Homo sapiens: one gene and its partner. The protein of the gene in region 1 interacts with the protein of each later gene in a pairwise test. Each region holds a gene or a part of one and is shown in the gene's direction. Other genes may lie near its edges.

Region 1 (7,975 bases):
CACTTTATAGCTTTGCCAGGTAATATAGTTTGGATATTTGTCCCCTCCAAGTCCGTCATTGAAATGTAATCCCCAGGATTGGAGGTGGGGCCTGGTAGGAGGAGTTTGGGTCATACCGCTGGATCCTTCATGAATGGCTTGGTGCCATCCTCACAGAAATGAGTGAGTTCTTGTCCTGGGTTCAAATGAGGTATGATTGTTTAAAAGTGTGTTGGCTGGGCACAGTGGCTCATGCCTATAATCCCAGCACTTAGGGAGGCTGAGGCGGGCAGATCACCTGAGGTCAGGAGTTTGAGACCAGCCTGGCCAACATGGTGAAACCCCATCTCTACTAAAAATACAAAAATTAGCCGGGTGTGGTGGCTTGCGCCTGTAATCCCAGCTACTCAGGAGGCCGAGGCATGAGAATGGCTTGAACCCAGGAGGCAGAGGTTGCAGTGAGCCGAGATCGCACCACTGCACTCCCTGGGGGACAGAGCGAGACTGTCTCAAAAAAAATTTTTTTAAAGTGTTACCTCCCCCACCTCTTCCTCTCGTTCTTGCCATGTGGTACATCGGGCTACCTCTTCACCTTCTGCCCTGATTGTAAGCTTCCTGAGGCCTTCACCAGAAGCAGATGCTGGCACCATGCGTCCTGTACAGCCTACAGAACCGTAAGCCATAAGCATAAACCGTAAACCTCTTTTTAAAATAAATTACCCAGTCTCGGGTGTTCCATTACAGAGATCCAAAGACAGACTAACCCACTGGGTCTAAAAAGTATAGGCCCAAGATAATCTCAGAACTTTGGAGTCATTCTTTCATTCGTTCAACAAATAACTATCCGGTACTTGTTGTCTATGGAGTAGTCTTCTAGGCATTGGGAATACTGCCAATAAAACAAAAATTCCTGTTTTCATAGAGCTTATGTGTTAGTTAGGGAAGACCAACAATAACAATGTTAGAAGTAAATGATATGGCCGGGCGTGGTGGCTCATGCCTGTAATCCCAGCACTTTGGGAGGCCGAAGTGGGCGGATCACCTGAGGTCAGGAGTTTGAGACCAGCCTGGCCAACATGGCGAAACCCTTTCTCTATTAAAAATACAAAAATTAGCCAGGCATGGTGGTGCACACCTGTAATCCCAGCTACTTGGGAGGCTGAGGCAGGGACAAATTGTTTGAACCCAGGAGATGGAGGTTGCAGTGAGATTGTGCCACTGCACTCCAGCCTGGGCAACAGAACGAGACTCCGTCTCAAAAAAATAAAAAACAAAAAAGAAATGAAGTAAATGATACATTAGAAGGTAATGAGTGCTATGTAGGAAAATGAAGCTGGAAGCTCCTATTAATTGGATGTTGGAACAGCTGGATTGATTGCAATACTCTGTTTTGAATTTGTATTCGAATACAAGTTATTGTATTTCTTTTTGTCTCTGCCCTACATTCTAGCAGAATTCTAGCAGAGTTTCCTATCTTAAAATGTTGAACATTGGCCAGGTGCGGTGGCTCACACCTGTAATCCTAGCACTTTGGGAGGCTGAGGTGGGCAGATCACTTGAGGTCAGGAGTTCAAAACCAGCCTGGCCAACATGGTGAAACCCCATCTCTACTAAAAATATTAAAAAATTAGCCAGGAGTGGTGGTGGGCACCTGTAATCCCAGCTACTTGGGAAGCTGAGGCAGGAGAATCACTTGAACCTCGGAGGTGGAGGTTGCAGTGAGCTGAGGTCACGCCACTATACTCCAGCCTGGGTGACAGAGGGAGACTTCATCTCAAAAAAAAAAAAAAAAAAAAAAGTTGAACATTTACATTTTTCTGTGCGTTTTCCAAGAATATTTTTAGTTTTGGATATAATTTTTAACACATCATATAGAAGAATACATAAAGTTGTCTGTACAGATTAAGGCCAAAACATCCTCTTTGGCTTTTCTGTTTCAAATTAACAGAAAAAAGACTGTGTGATAGACCCAGCTAACTCTGCGGTTCTCTCTAGTGTCAGTGAGTTAAGGAGCTGAGGGAACTGCATGGTATGACATGGCCATGCAGGTCCCACCTTAGGGTACCAGTGACGTTTTTCCACAGAATGTAGGGGGTGGCAGGGTGATAGTGCTGTGTGGAAAACAGCTATCATGAGAAGGGGCCACTGAGCCCAGTATGCCCAGTGAGGACTCTGAACTCCATCTTTTTATTAATTGTTAATTTTTGTGGGTATTGAACTCCATCTTGAAGGTAGGGCAAGCCTCTGACTTATCTTAGGCAGAGGGTGAAATGATAATTTAAGGTTTGAAAGACACTCCAGAGGGGGAAGGATGAGAGGAGACTGTAATCCAAGTGAGAAATGAGGCCTAAACAGAGACAGGGTATTTAGACAGAGGTGACAGAGGATGTCAGGTGAGATGATTCCAAGTTCCTGGCTTGGGCAATTTCTCAATCACTCTCTGAATCAGGGAAGAGAAAGGGAAGGTTTGTTTCCTGTTGGGAGTGGCATTGATAAATTCAATTCGGAACATTTTTTTAGTTTCAGGAGCTTGTGGAATATGCAGCCGAGGATGCATAGCAGGTTGGCAGTAACATGAATTTGCTTTCAGAGAATCTGGAGTAGATTTGAGAGTTATTAACATATAACATAGGTATCATGAGTAAGGCTGATGAGAAGGATGAGAAGAGACGCAAGCTTGAAACAATACCAATTTTTCTGTTTTGTCTATAACTATTGAGCTATAGTTCACATATAATAAACTGCACCCATTTAAAGCATACAATTGGATAAATCTTGACAGAAACCACCACAATAATCAACATACAGAACATTACCATCACCTCTCAAAGTCTCCTCAGACCCTTTTAGCCCTTCCCTCTCTCCATGCCCTTACTGCAGACAACTACTCATCAGCTTTCTCCCACTGGAGTTTGCTTCTAGAATTTCGTGACTGGTTTCTTTGGTGTCTAGCTTGCTTTTTCACTTAGCATAATCCATTTTGAGATTCATCGTATGGTTGTATTTATCAGTAGTTCTTTTTTTTTTTTTTTTTTTTTTTTTTTGAGAAGGAGTCTCACTCTGTCACCCAGGCTGGAGTGCAGTGGTGTAATCTCGGCTCACCACAACCTCCGCCTCCTGGATTCAAGTAATTCTCCTGTCTCAGCCTCTGGAATAGCTGGGATTACAGGCGCCCGCCACCATGCCCGGCTAATTTTTGTATTTTTAGTGGAGACGAGGTTTCACCATGTTGGCCAGGCTGGTCTCGATCTCCTGACTTGAGGTGACCCACCCATCTTGGCCTCCCAAAGTGCTGGGATTACAGGTGTGAGCCACCCGTACCCAGCCAGTAGTTCCTTTTTATTTGTAAGTGGTATCCCACGTTTTGTTTAGCCATTTACTCGATGGGTATTGGGGGTGGTTTCTATTTTTTCCTATTAAGAATAAAACTATGAACATTCATGTACATGGCTGTGTGCAGACACAGGTTTTCATTTCTCATGGATAACTAGAAACGGAATGCCTGGGTTATATGGTAGGCATATGTTCAACTTTTTAAAAACTAAGTTTTGCAAAGAGATTGTAACATTTTATGTTCCCATCAATAACAGTTCCAATTATTCCAAATCCTTACAGCTCTTGGCATTCTCAATCTGATTTTAGCCATTCTAGTAGGTGTGTAATGGTCTCTTATTGTATTCTTTTAATGTCCATTTCTGTGATGACTAATGATGCTACTGTGCTTATTGGTCATTTGTATATCTTCTTTCGTTCTATTCAAATTTATTGCCTGGTTTTTAGTTGGGCTGTATTTTTATAACTGAGTTGTAAAGCGTCCTCATATATTCTGGATCCAAGTCCTTTTGTTAGATATATGTTATTATGAATATTTTATTCTGTGGCTTGGCTTTTCATTTTCTCAACTGTGACCTTCAAAGAGCAAAAATTTTAATTTTTTTTTAAAAGCCCTATTTATCCATTTTCGCTTTATGCATATATATATAAAATGAGATGGGGTCTCACTATGTTGGCCTTGCTGGTCTGGAACTCTTGGGTTCAAGCAATCCTCCCTGCTCTACCTCCCAAAGTGCTGGGGTTACAGGCATGAGCCACCCCGCTTGGGATGCCTTTTTTATTCTAAGAATTCTGTGCTTATTCCAAGATGGCAAACATATTCTCCTGGTTTTTTTCTAGGCTTATATTAAATAGTTTTAGCTTTTACATTTAAGTCAGCGATCCATTCAGAGTTAAGTTTTTTATCTATTTCTGTAGGGCAGAACATCAGTTTTTAAAGGGTGGGCAAGGTGAAAAGAACCCTGAAGGATACCAGGGAAAATGATGTTTCTGAAGCCATGAAAGGTGCAGGTGGGGTCAGTGGTGGCAAATGCTTTCGAAACCAAGTTTGAGTGTGGCTGAAAAGTACTTAACGTTAATTTACCGGGCCTACCTTGTGCCAAGCACATCACACTTGCTCTTAAGTTGTTCAGTCTATTGAGGGCATCTTGCTTTAAAAAATGTATGCATAAGACAAAAGCTGGAGGTGGTCGGAGTCGAAGGAGATTTTTTGTTTTTGAGACATGGGCACGTTTGTATGAAGGATAAACGTCAATAATGAAGATGGGGGAGGACTTAGGGTGTCAATGAGGGGAAAGGCCACTGAGGCTGGAAAAAATAGTACCCAGAGCCTAGTGGAGGGATTAGCTTTGGCCTGGAAGTATTTAAAGTTCACCCAGAGTTCCGGAAAGAAAAATGGAGGAAAAGAAGAGTTGCGGGGAGAGACAAGCGGTATCCCTGCAAATCTGAAAACTGGAAGAGGAATTGGAAGTAACCTTTTCGGATACCGTCTGGAGCCCACGAAGGCATTACAATTTTGCAAGTGAGAAGCTTCTCCTCTAAGTTGTCATTTAGTCCTCGTCACGTGGTAAAAAGTATCGCACGCCCACAGTTCTACACCCGAAAGTCCGGACACCTGAGCGACTTTCCGGGCCAGAGGCCCCAAGGTGCATCGGGGCAGAGCCGGAAGCGGACGCTGAAAACTGGCGGCTCCTTAATGGTTCCGGCGGCAGGGACCGCAGCGACGCCCTCACCGGAAGTCCCGCCTCTGCCGTGGGCCTGCGAGAATCGAGGCACTCGCTGGCGTACCCATGTATCGAAATGAGTTCACGGCCTGGTACCGGCGGATGTCGGTGGTCTACGGGATCGGCACCTGGTCTGTGTTGGGCTCACTGCTTTACTATAGCCGGACAATGGCGAAGTCGTCAGGTAGGGCTCTTCGGCGGGGCCTGCCCCGGAACACACGGCCTTCGATGAGAGTTCCCCGGGGGTCATGGAAACAACTTCCCTGTCCTTTAAATCCCAGGTTTATTCTGCAAAACTAATTGAAACGGGTGCTAACAGCCGTTTGTTATAATGGAATCTGCAAAGAACTAGACTCCAGGAATTATTAATACCTTGTAAATATTGTTTCCTAAATCTGAATCATTTACTGGATAGGGCCGTCCCCATATTCAGAATTGGAGGAATCTGTGTAAAGTGCAAGGTGGACTTTCAGAGACTCTGGCCGGTGATTTTTAAAGAGTGATGCTTCAGTACTACTGTCCCTCATCGTATATGGCGAGCAATTTCAGTACTTTTAGCAGCCAAGGCGTATTAAAATCTTCCAGTTACTAAGCGCAAAGGGAGAAAAGTCTCTCAGCTTTGAAAAATATGCTGGAAATCTGTAGAGACATTAAGTTGATTAGTGTGGTTGCTAGGGGCTGAGGGGTTGGGGAGTTGGGGAATGACTGCCAAAGGTATGGATTCCTTTTGTGGATGAAAGTATTTTTAAATTGATTGTGGTGCTGGTTGCACAAATCTGAATATACTAAAAACATTAAATTGTATATTTTAAGTGGGTTAATCGTATATGTTAATTATATCTCAGTAAAGTTGTTGTGTAAAAACTATGCTGAAGATTACATTTGGTGATGAAGCTGTCAGTGGCCTGAAAGTACATGTGTCCAGCATTAAGCATTTAAAAACATTTTGGCCGGGTGCAGTGGCTCACGCCTGTAATCCCATAACTTTGGGAGGCCGAGGTGGGAGATTGCTTGAGCCCAGGGGTTCGGGACCAGCCTGGGCAACATGGGGAGACCCCCATCTCTACCAAAAGAAAAAGAAATTTTTATATATAATATTTTATATTTACTTTATATGTAATATATGGTAAAAATACTTTACATTTATATATAAAGTAAAAATATTTTAATGTCCATATTTATGTTTTCTTTCTTTCGTTCTTTTTTTTTTTCTTTTTGACAAGGTCTCACCCTGTCGCCCAGGCTTGAGTGCAGTGGCATGATCTCGGCTCACCACAACCTGCGTCTCCGGGCTCAAGTGATTCTCCTGCCTCAGCCTCCCGAGTAGCTGGGATTGCAGGCGCAGGCCACTGCTGCCCGGCGAATTGTTTTATTTTTTTTTTGAGACAGAGTCTAGCTCTGTCGCCCAGGCTGGAGTGCACTGGCGCTATCTTGGCTCACTGTAACCTCCATCTCCCAACTCAAGCAGTCCTCCTGCCTCATCCTCCCCAGTAGCTGGGGTTATAGGCCCATGCCACCACGCCCAGCTAATTTTTGTATTTTTAGTAGAGATGGGGTTTCACTACGTTGGCGAGGCTGGTCTCAAACACCTGACCTCAGGTGGTCCACCTGCCTCGGCCCCCACAAAGTGAGATTGGGATTACAGGCGTGAGCCACCGCACCCAGCTTTTCTTTTCCCTTCCTTTTCATTCCTTCCTTCATTATTGGGGTTGGAGAGAGTGGATGTAATTCTTACCTTAGTTAATTTCTAAGACTTTAATGACTGCTTTCTAAGTTAATAATTCAGGTGTTCTTTTTTTTTTTTTCTCTTAATGGTGATAAAGTAGACCAAAAGGATGGCTCAGCAAGTGAAGTACCCAGTGAACTCTCTGAACGCCCAAAAGGATTTTATGTGGAAACAGTTGTCACATATAAAGAAGATTTTGTTCCAAATACAGAAAAGATCCTCAACTATTGGAAATCATGGACTGGTGGCCCTGGTACAGAACCATGACTGGCTGCTGAATTCTGAAAACCAGGACTTGGTTCAACATTTAAATTTGATAGTTGCCCTGATTCCCATTTTGGGTTTGTGAAAAGTGTATGTATTTAAATTTGCTGTAAAACATAATCACTAATAATATGCAATAAATATTTTCTTGAAGGAAACTATCTGCGTTTTCTTTTTTTTTTTTTTTTTTGAGACGGAGTCTTGCTGTGTCACCCAGGCTGGAGTGCAGTGGCTCGATCTCGGCTCACTGCAAGCTCCGCCTCCCAGGTTCATGCCATTCTCCTGCCTCAGCCTCCCGAGTAGCTGGGACTAAAGGCGCCTGCCACCATGTCTGGCTAATTTTTTGTGTTTTCAGTGGAGACAGGGTTTCACCGTGTTAGCCAGGATGGTCTCCATCTCCTGACCTTGTGATCCGCCTGCCTCAGCCTCCCAAAGTGCTGGGATTACAGGTGTGAGCCACGGTCCCCGGCCTACTATCTGCATTTTCAAGAGGTGTTCCTCTGTATTTGCATGAGTGAAAGATTGCTGTGAAATTTCACATAGAGCTTCCATAAGCTTGATTTCCTGAAACTAGTTAATGTAGATTTATATTTCTTTCATGTTGCTATTAGGCACAGCTTTAGTGGTCGCTTTAAGGTTAGTTTCAGCAAATCTCCATATTCACTTTGGGATTCACAGTAGCCCTTTGGGTACTACTGCGTACTGGGTAAGTATGATATAAATTTGATTGTAACTTCTGAATTAAACAGACTGGACCTATTCTTTAGGACCAGTGCACATACCCCTCATTCCTTCAGCAAGTGTGGATTACCCACCAACTGTGGCCAGTGCTATTCTAATGCTGGGAATGCAGTCAGGACGACATGATTGATGCTGAACCAGTTTCCTCAGTGGTCTCTTGGTTGCAGGCAACAAACACAAGTGAGCTTAAATCAAAAGTGGGTGTTTA
Region 2 (7,897 bases), on another chromosome or scaffold:
GCAAAACATTTGGAAAACATAGCTTCCTTTACCTTTTAAAAAAATTCTGGCTGGATTAAAAAATTAAATGTAAAACCCTAAAATCACTGAACTACTAGAAGTAAATGTATGTGATTTTAAAAATGAACTTTGCAGGGCAAGGTCTTTATATACCAAGGGCAAACTGGATTAGTAAAATCGGTTATTCCTCGAGTTTCATTGGTGGAGTTGTGAGTGCATTTAGGAAGAAATAGAGTAGCTACATATTTAAATGGAATATAAACTGTTGCCACTATTTATTCAGCAAACAATAGTTGACATATGCTTGGGATACAAAGTCAAATGAGACAGGTTTCCTGCCCTCAAGAAGTATTCAGATGCTGGGAGGGAAGTGTAAGTAAATCAGCAGTTTGGCAAGTGCTGTGAGAGAAAGATAGAAAGATTAAGAAGGGAGCAGAGAGGAGGGGCATCTAAATCTAATGAGGGTCAGAAAATCTTCCCAGCAGAGGAGACACACTAAATTTTGAAACATTTAAAGGCTGTGTGAAGTCACAGTGGTGTGACATGGCCCTTAATTATGATTAATGCAGTAAAATGGCAGGAAGTGAAGCCAGTGGGTTAGGTAAGGGCAGGTTATGGCGGGTTTTGATGTGCAATTTGACTTTTATCCTTAAAGCAATGGGGAGTTATTGAGTCTTGAGCAGAGGCATGAAATGAGCAGATTTGCATTTTAGAAAAATTGTTTTTTTCTAAACAGAAAAACAGATAGGATGTAGGTAGCTCAAGGCAAGGACATTAGATAGAAGGTTGTTAAAGTAGTCAGGTGGGAAGTGACGTATAGACTAAGGAGGTAACAGTATTGACAATAGAAGATGGATTAAAGAACTCTTAAGTTAGAACCTCAAAAGTCAGAAGAATGTAGGATTATCAGATTTCTGGTATGAGGGACTAGAGTTTGGTAACTGGAGTTTTCCACTGATGTTGGTAATACTAGAGTAAATCAAGTTTGTGAAGAGAGATGAAATTTTCAGTTTAATCTATGTAGAGTTTAACATACCTGTGGTACAGACAAGCAAAGATACAATTGTGATTTAGGTCGGAATTCAGCAGAGAGGTCTGGACTAAAGAAACAGATTCAAATGTCATAAGTGTGTGAGCGGTGTTGAAACCATGGGTTGGGTGAAATTACCATTGAGTACAGATGGCCAGGAATATCCCTAAGGGACATAAACATTTAAAGAACCACCAAAAATGACTGAGAAGTGCTAAGAGAAAATGCAGGAGAGAATACTAACATAGAAGCCAATAGAAGAGAGAATTTCAAGAAAAAAGTAAGAGTTTCGAGAAGCAAAAGCAAAGACTTTAAATATACAGACAAGAGAGTATCCATCGAATTTGGCAGCCTCCAAAAGCTGGGCAGCCTCCAAAGTGTGGTGGCTGAAGCCAGACTGAAGAAAGTCAAGAAATAAAAGTGATGTAAAGAAGTGGAGACAGCAAGGACACGCTACTCCTTCAAGAAACCTGACTTTGAAGAGAAGGAGATAGGGAAGGCAAAAGCTGAGAGAAACATGGGGTCAATATGGAATTTTTAAAAGTGGAGAATATCCATGTGTTTCTAGACTGAAGAAAAAGAAAAGAATGTGAGGAGGTGAGAAGGGAGACAGAAAGCATGACTGAATTGGCAAAATCCAAGAGCGGGTAGAAGGGCGTGGGATCCAGAGTACTGGATTGTCCCTGGACAGGACAAGGGGCACCTTTTTTCATTGATACAGAAGAGGAGTAAAGGGTAGGTCCAGATGAAAATGAGATTAGAGAAAGTTAAGGTATTCTCACTGATGTCCCTGATATTCTCACTGAAGTGTAGGAAGCAAAGTGATCCTGTCAGAAAGGTGGTGAGTAGTGGTATGGGGTATCCTGAAGAAAGATGAATGTAGGAGGAGGCTTAGGATTATCAAGTAGCACTGAAGACCTGAGGCTAACAATTTGTAGACATGAATGCTCCTTTGGGTGACTGCTTTTCCCTGTATTAATACTCAGCAGGAGTATCATTTTCTTCTCTAGTAATACTGAGCCATGATGTAAGAGTACAGGAACTTAATGACAAGGCTGATCCAGAACTGGGGCTTTTTAGGACATATTGTAGAAGAATAAAGACACAGGAAAGCCAAGAGTAAGTGGAAAAAGAAAGCACTTGAAAGTAATTGACTATCAGTTTGGCACTGAGGGGAAAATGAGTGGTCAGGGAGTAGAATCCTCAATGTGATTGAAAACTTGGTGCAGTTAGGTCTTCAGGGGCCCACAATAAAACCCCTCTCTTCCTCTTTTTAGTTTGAACCAAGGTATGAAAACAAATGCAGGAACTAGGCAGATGAAGATCAAAACGTCATCTTTATAAATGTCAGCAGGAGTGGAGGACAGAGCACAGATACGTGGTCTCTATCTGATCTCCTAATACTGTGAACAAAGGTGTCCATTGAAACAGCTCCTTCAGGGCAGAGACCACCACAAGAAGCTAATTTTCACCACATGAAAATTAGAAGCAGTGACCGTTTGAGACAAGGACAGCTGCTGTCAGAGAGAAAGGAAAGGGCTGGATCCATGCATTGGTCCTTCTAGACTTGGGGAGGAGTGAGTAAGCAGTGGAGTGAGAGAAGCCAGTGTTGCTACTGCTTTGTAATTCACCACCTGGAAACTTGAGAACAGGGAAGCATTTCACCCTAAGAGACACAATGGGCACAAAAGAATCAACCAGAAGAATATGGGATGTGATTAGAGAGCAGGATCTCAGGGTTTTAGATTTCCAAAGTGGAATAGTTCTGGGTGACATTAGGGGCCAGGATGTGGCCATGGAAATGGGTGGATGTGGTGAATCAGAGGTGATGTCAAGGGCTGAGAGGCTGGGGTATGGTTTTATTCATTCATGCGGTCAGGATGTGATCCAGGGTGACACTGGACTTGGGATGCCAGGACATAGAAGACAAAAAAAATTAGAGTGTGAGGGTGATGGGCTTTGAAGCAGAAGTGAGAAGCCTTGGGCTGGATTGTGAGCCTGGGCTAAACCATTCTGGCCTGTGTGTGGAATAAGATTCCAGAAGTGAGGTAGGTACTTGATGCAACTGGATTTCCTCAGTTTCATTTTGCATCACCATCTGTAAGCCAAAGATAAATTTATTACGGATGACCCTATGTTCATTCACCCTCTTTTTGGACAAATGTAAATGGTGGTGGTTAGCCAATTTTAGGGGGAGCAATGGAGGCAGTACTTGCTGAATTCATGGTTTTTAAGATGTAGCTTTAAGAGGAAAAGAAAGCTTGAGGATTCCATGCTCCAAACTAGCATTCCATCCAGTGAGAGGAGATTATTAGTTCACTTTCTAGCAGGTATAGGTAGACAAATAAATAACTTTTGCAGAGAGAAACTCCCAGAGTGGAATTGTACATGCATAACAAAATTTTTCTCTCTCCACATTAAAAGGAGTGGCCTCAGACTCATCAAGCCTCTATCTCATACACGGGACCTACAGAGAGACCTCCCAATGAACCAGAGGAGACCCCTGTACAAAGGCCTTCTTTGTACAGGAGAATATTACGAAGGCTTGCGTCCTACTGGGCACAACCACAGGATGGTGAGCAATGTGGCGACTAAAGATTGGAGGGCCCTGGTCAGTTTAGAAGTGCCCTAAAGTAGACCTCCAAAATCAGTTTTAGAGACTTAACTAGAGCAGGAGAAGCCTCTCAGGGATCACTGAATTCATCCTTCTGTGTGCCACCAGAGCAGGCCCAAGCAATGTGCCATCAATGGGCATAGCAGTCTCTGTGCACAGTCTTTCTGTTAACGTGACTGCTTTTGGTAGTGATGTTTTAGGCACAGAGATGCCATTTTTACCTCTATGTATAAGAAGCATGAAATAAATAAAATGAAGGCAGAGTCAGCAGAAAGGTTGAGAAGCTGAGCTGAGCAGCTAGCAGCTAGCCGTCCGTGGTGGGTGGTGAAATGTTAATGGAAGAAACTGACCTGTATCTAATGGATTCCCACAGCCCTTTCCCAAGAGGTGAGCCCGGAGGTCTGGAAAGATGTGCAGCTGTCCACCATTGAACTGTCCATCACAACACGGAATAATCAGCTTGACCCGACAGTAAGTGTGCTTTTTTATTAGAAAAGCATTTGGTACCTAAGAAAAGTGACAATAGCTATAGTCCTCTCCCACTAATTCAGTTATTTTTATTTTTACCCTGTGGAGATAGAGAGGGCAGTGTCAGGAGAAAGAGGATGTGGTGTGCCTTTAAGGAATAACAGCAATGAGGAGAAGCTGCCACCTGCAGGAGTGGCATAAATGCTTCTGGGGCTCTGATTACATGTTCTGCTCATTGCTTAATTGGCATTCAGAGAACTTAGGGCAAGAGGGCTTTAGAAATGAAAATTAGCTATTCCCATTTGTCACTGGAAAAAAATTGTGGAACTTTTAGTTGAGTAAATATCCACGATTTTTGTGACTGTACTAAATATGTCAAATTAGATCCTCAGGAGAAAAATACCCACACACATACATCTGTATCTATATCTACATATTATTTATTTAGGCCCAATCTATAGGTATGCACTATCCCATACGGTAGCTATTAGCCACATGTGGCTAGTTAAATTTAAATTAATTAGAATTAAATAAAATTCAAAACTTAGTTCCTAAGTCACACTCACCACATTTCAAGTGCTCAACAGCCATATGTAGCTAGTAGCCATCATACTGGAAAGCACAGGTATACAGCCTGTCCGTCAGTGCAGAAGGTTCTGTTGGGTGGTGCTACTATAGACAACACACCCAAAAGTATTGAAATAAAGCAGGCATTGGCAAACTGGTCTGCCACCTGTTTTTATATAGCCCAGAAGCCAAGAATCTTCTAATTTTAAATGATGCAAAGAAAATCAAAAGAATAATTTTTGTGAACAGAAAAATACGTAAAGTTCAAGTTTCAGTATCCATAAATAAAGTTTTATTGGAGCACAGCCATATTCATTCACAAATATATTGTCTGTGGCTGCCTTTGTGCTACAGGGGAGAGCTGAGTAGTTGTGACAGATTGTATGGCCCAAAGCCTAAAATGTTTATTATCTGGTCACTTACAGAAAAAGTTTACTGACCCTAGTATAGAGAAAACCTTGGTAATTTATATCAATGAGAATGCCAATAGGAAAGTAATTGTTAACTGTGGACTAATTACATTCAGCTTGTATGCAAATTAGTCTGTTCACAGTTGTCTAGGCCAGTCTGAAAATTAGCAGATGGAGTTGGAATGTCGTGAAAAGTTTGATTCCAATATTAATAGAGTGATAAGTTTGATTCTAATATTAATGTTCAGAGTATTGAGATGTTTTCTAACTATGAAAATAATACATGTCCATTGCAAAACATTTGGAAAACATAGCTCCCTTCACCCTATAAAAAAAATTCTAGTTTGATTAAAGAACTAAATGTAAAATAATAAAATCATTAAAGTAGTAGGGTAAATGGCACACGTTTATACCTATGTAACAAGGCTGCGCCTCCTGTGTATGTATCCCGGAACTTAAAATAGAAGTTTGAAGTTAAAAAAAAGTATTAGGGTAAAATCTAAGTGATTATCAGTATAAAATTAAGGAGGACAAGGCCTCTCTAAGCATGACATTTAAGGCAAAAATCATATTGATGCATTTGTCTTTTTATTTAAAAAGACATTCTAAACAAACTTTTAAATGACATATTGGGAAAAATATTAGCATGTGATAGACCAGGAATTCACTTTCCTTTTAACAAGCTCTTAGGATAAAGCAATGAGAAATGGGCAAAGGACTAATATAAAAAGTGAGCAAGGGGTAAGAATAGAAAATTCATAAAAGAAATAAGCATATGAAAAAATAGCTTATATTTGCTGATTATTTACTACATGTGAGGCACCTGTCCTAAGAATTTTACATAATATTATGTAATCCTTATAGGTAGATATCTTTATCTGCATTTTGTAGGTAAGGAGACAGAGTGATTTCAGCAAAGAAATGCAAATTAAAATAGTAAGATTGAATTGTCATGACTAAAAAGCATGTTATAGATTAAAAGCTTAGTGGTGGTGTGTGTTTCTGATGGGAATATAGATTGGAACATCCTGTCTCAGCAATTTGGCATAGTATACATAAAGTGTCTAAAATATATGCATACCTTCTGCCCTATTAACTGTATTTCTAGGAATTTATCCTACTGGAATAACCTGATGAATATATAATGTAGGCAGTCCTTTTTTACATAATGGAAATCTGAAAAACACTGGTGAAAGTGGATATGTGAATGCTAAAAAAAAAAAAATAGATTCTGTTCCAGAGGAATTTAAAAGAGAAAGATAAAATGTCTAATTATACATCTCCTTTATACCAAGTCTTTAATAATATGTATTCCGAGTATTTTATTCATGTTCTTTACCATTGTTCTTTTCTCTGATGACTGAGTACCACTGAATGGATTGAGTTCAGTGAGTATGTGAGTGCGCTCAAGATTAGCCACACTCACAATGCCAAGTGCTTTTTATCTTTGTGCCTATTTAAAAGTATACGATACTGTGCCGCTTATCACTAGTAGCAGCAAATTCATTTGTTTCGTTTTTGCACAGTTCTTTATAAAAATAAAAGCAAATGCAATACAATAAAGGCAGTGTAGCTGCCGTGTAATAGCTCAAAATGTTCACTTATTAAAAGCAGCACATTCAGTGTATGAAAGAAGCTGTAGGAGTATAGAATGTGTGAAAATTAGGATCTCTTATACAACTATGCTCACTGTATAATAGTAAAATATTTGCAATGAACTAATCAGACTGAATAAATTTTGGTACATTTATTAAAAGTCATATCTATTTTATATATGTATTATTTTCTATCTATTGACATGGGAAAAATAGGTGAAAAGATTTGCAACATAGTTCCATTTTTCTTTAAAAAGGAAATACCCCCACTTATAAGTGAGTTTTGTGAATGATGGAGGTAAAGCTCCAATTTTATGTTCTTTCCAAATAGAAAGCCAGTTGTCCAAGCGCCATTTATTGAAATCTCCATTTTCCCCCATTGATCTTCAATAAACCTCTGCCATACATCATGTCTATATACATGTAAATGTTTCTAGTCTCTTTCTTCTATTGTTGTTCCATTTTCTCATATTTATACTAATACTCTGCTTCTCTTATTATAGTTTTATAATAAGTTCTATGTTTTTCTCTTTTTACACAGTCTCTTGGCTATTCTTAGCTCATTTGAGTTCTATAAATATTTTAGAATGTTTATTTTATTAAATTCCACATAAAAATGTTATAATATTGATCTCACTGCATTGTACCCATAGATCAATTTGGAGAGAAATGACATTTCTACAATATTGACTCCTCTAGCATATGAACGGGGTATATCTCTTCATTTATTTAGGTCTTCAATGTCTTTCAATGAAGTTTTATAGTTTTCTCTGGAATATCCTGTCTTTTGCTGGATATATTCCCAGTTATCTTAATTTTTATGCTATTCTAAATAATATCTATTAAAATTTCATTTTCTACCTGATTTAGTAGATGGACATATAATTGATTTTTATATCAATGCTGAATCAGCAACCTAATTAAATTATTATTAATTATTCTAACTTTCTTTCAATGAATTCTTTCAAATTTTCTACAGATTTAGTCATGGCCAATGCAAATAGTGCAAGGTTTGTTTTCTCTCTTCAAATACTTATCCTTACAATCCTTCATTTTACTTAGAGCACTGGATAGGACCTCAGTACATGGTTAAATAGAAGTAGCAGTAACAGGAGTCCCCATCGTCTTTCTTATTTCTGATTTAGAGAGAAAGTCTTCATTGCTTCATGCTTGTATTTAATGTGCTTTCTTTTTTTATAGACACCCTTTATCA

The links. Proteins that work in one complex are often made in the same cells at the same time.
Region 2: the proteins of SMIM26 (region 1) and AGK interact in binary tests that used the Homo sapiens proteins (3 or more experiments, as listed by UniProt).

The regions. Positions count from the first base shown.
Region 1 is NC_000020.11:18,562,377-18,570,351, forward strand, and holds SMIM26 (small integral membrane protein 26), read left to right. Parts: upstream 1-5,055; 5' UTR 5,056-5,102; coding exon 5,103-5,220; intron 5,221-6,859; coding exon 6,860-7,029; 3' UTR 7,030-7,184; downstream 7,185-7,975. UniProt on the Homo sapiens protein: May play a role in cell viability.
Region 2 is NC_000007.14:141,637,794-141,645,690, forward strand, and holds part of AGK (acylglycerol kinase, mitochondrial isoform 1 precursor), read left to right. Parts: intron 1-3,454; coding exon 3,455-3,605; intron 3,606-4,017; coding exon 4,018-4,115; intron 4,116-7,897. UniProt on the Homo sapiens protein: Lipid kinase that can phosphorylate both monoacylglycerol and diacylglycerol to form lysophosphatidic acid (LPA) and phosphatidic acid (PA), respectively. Does not phosphorylate sphingosine. Phosphorylates ceramide.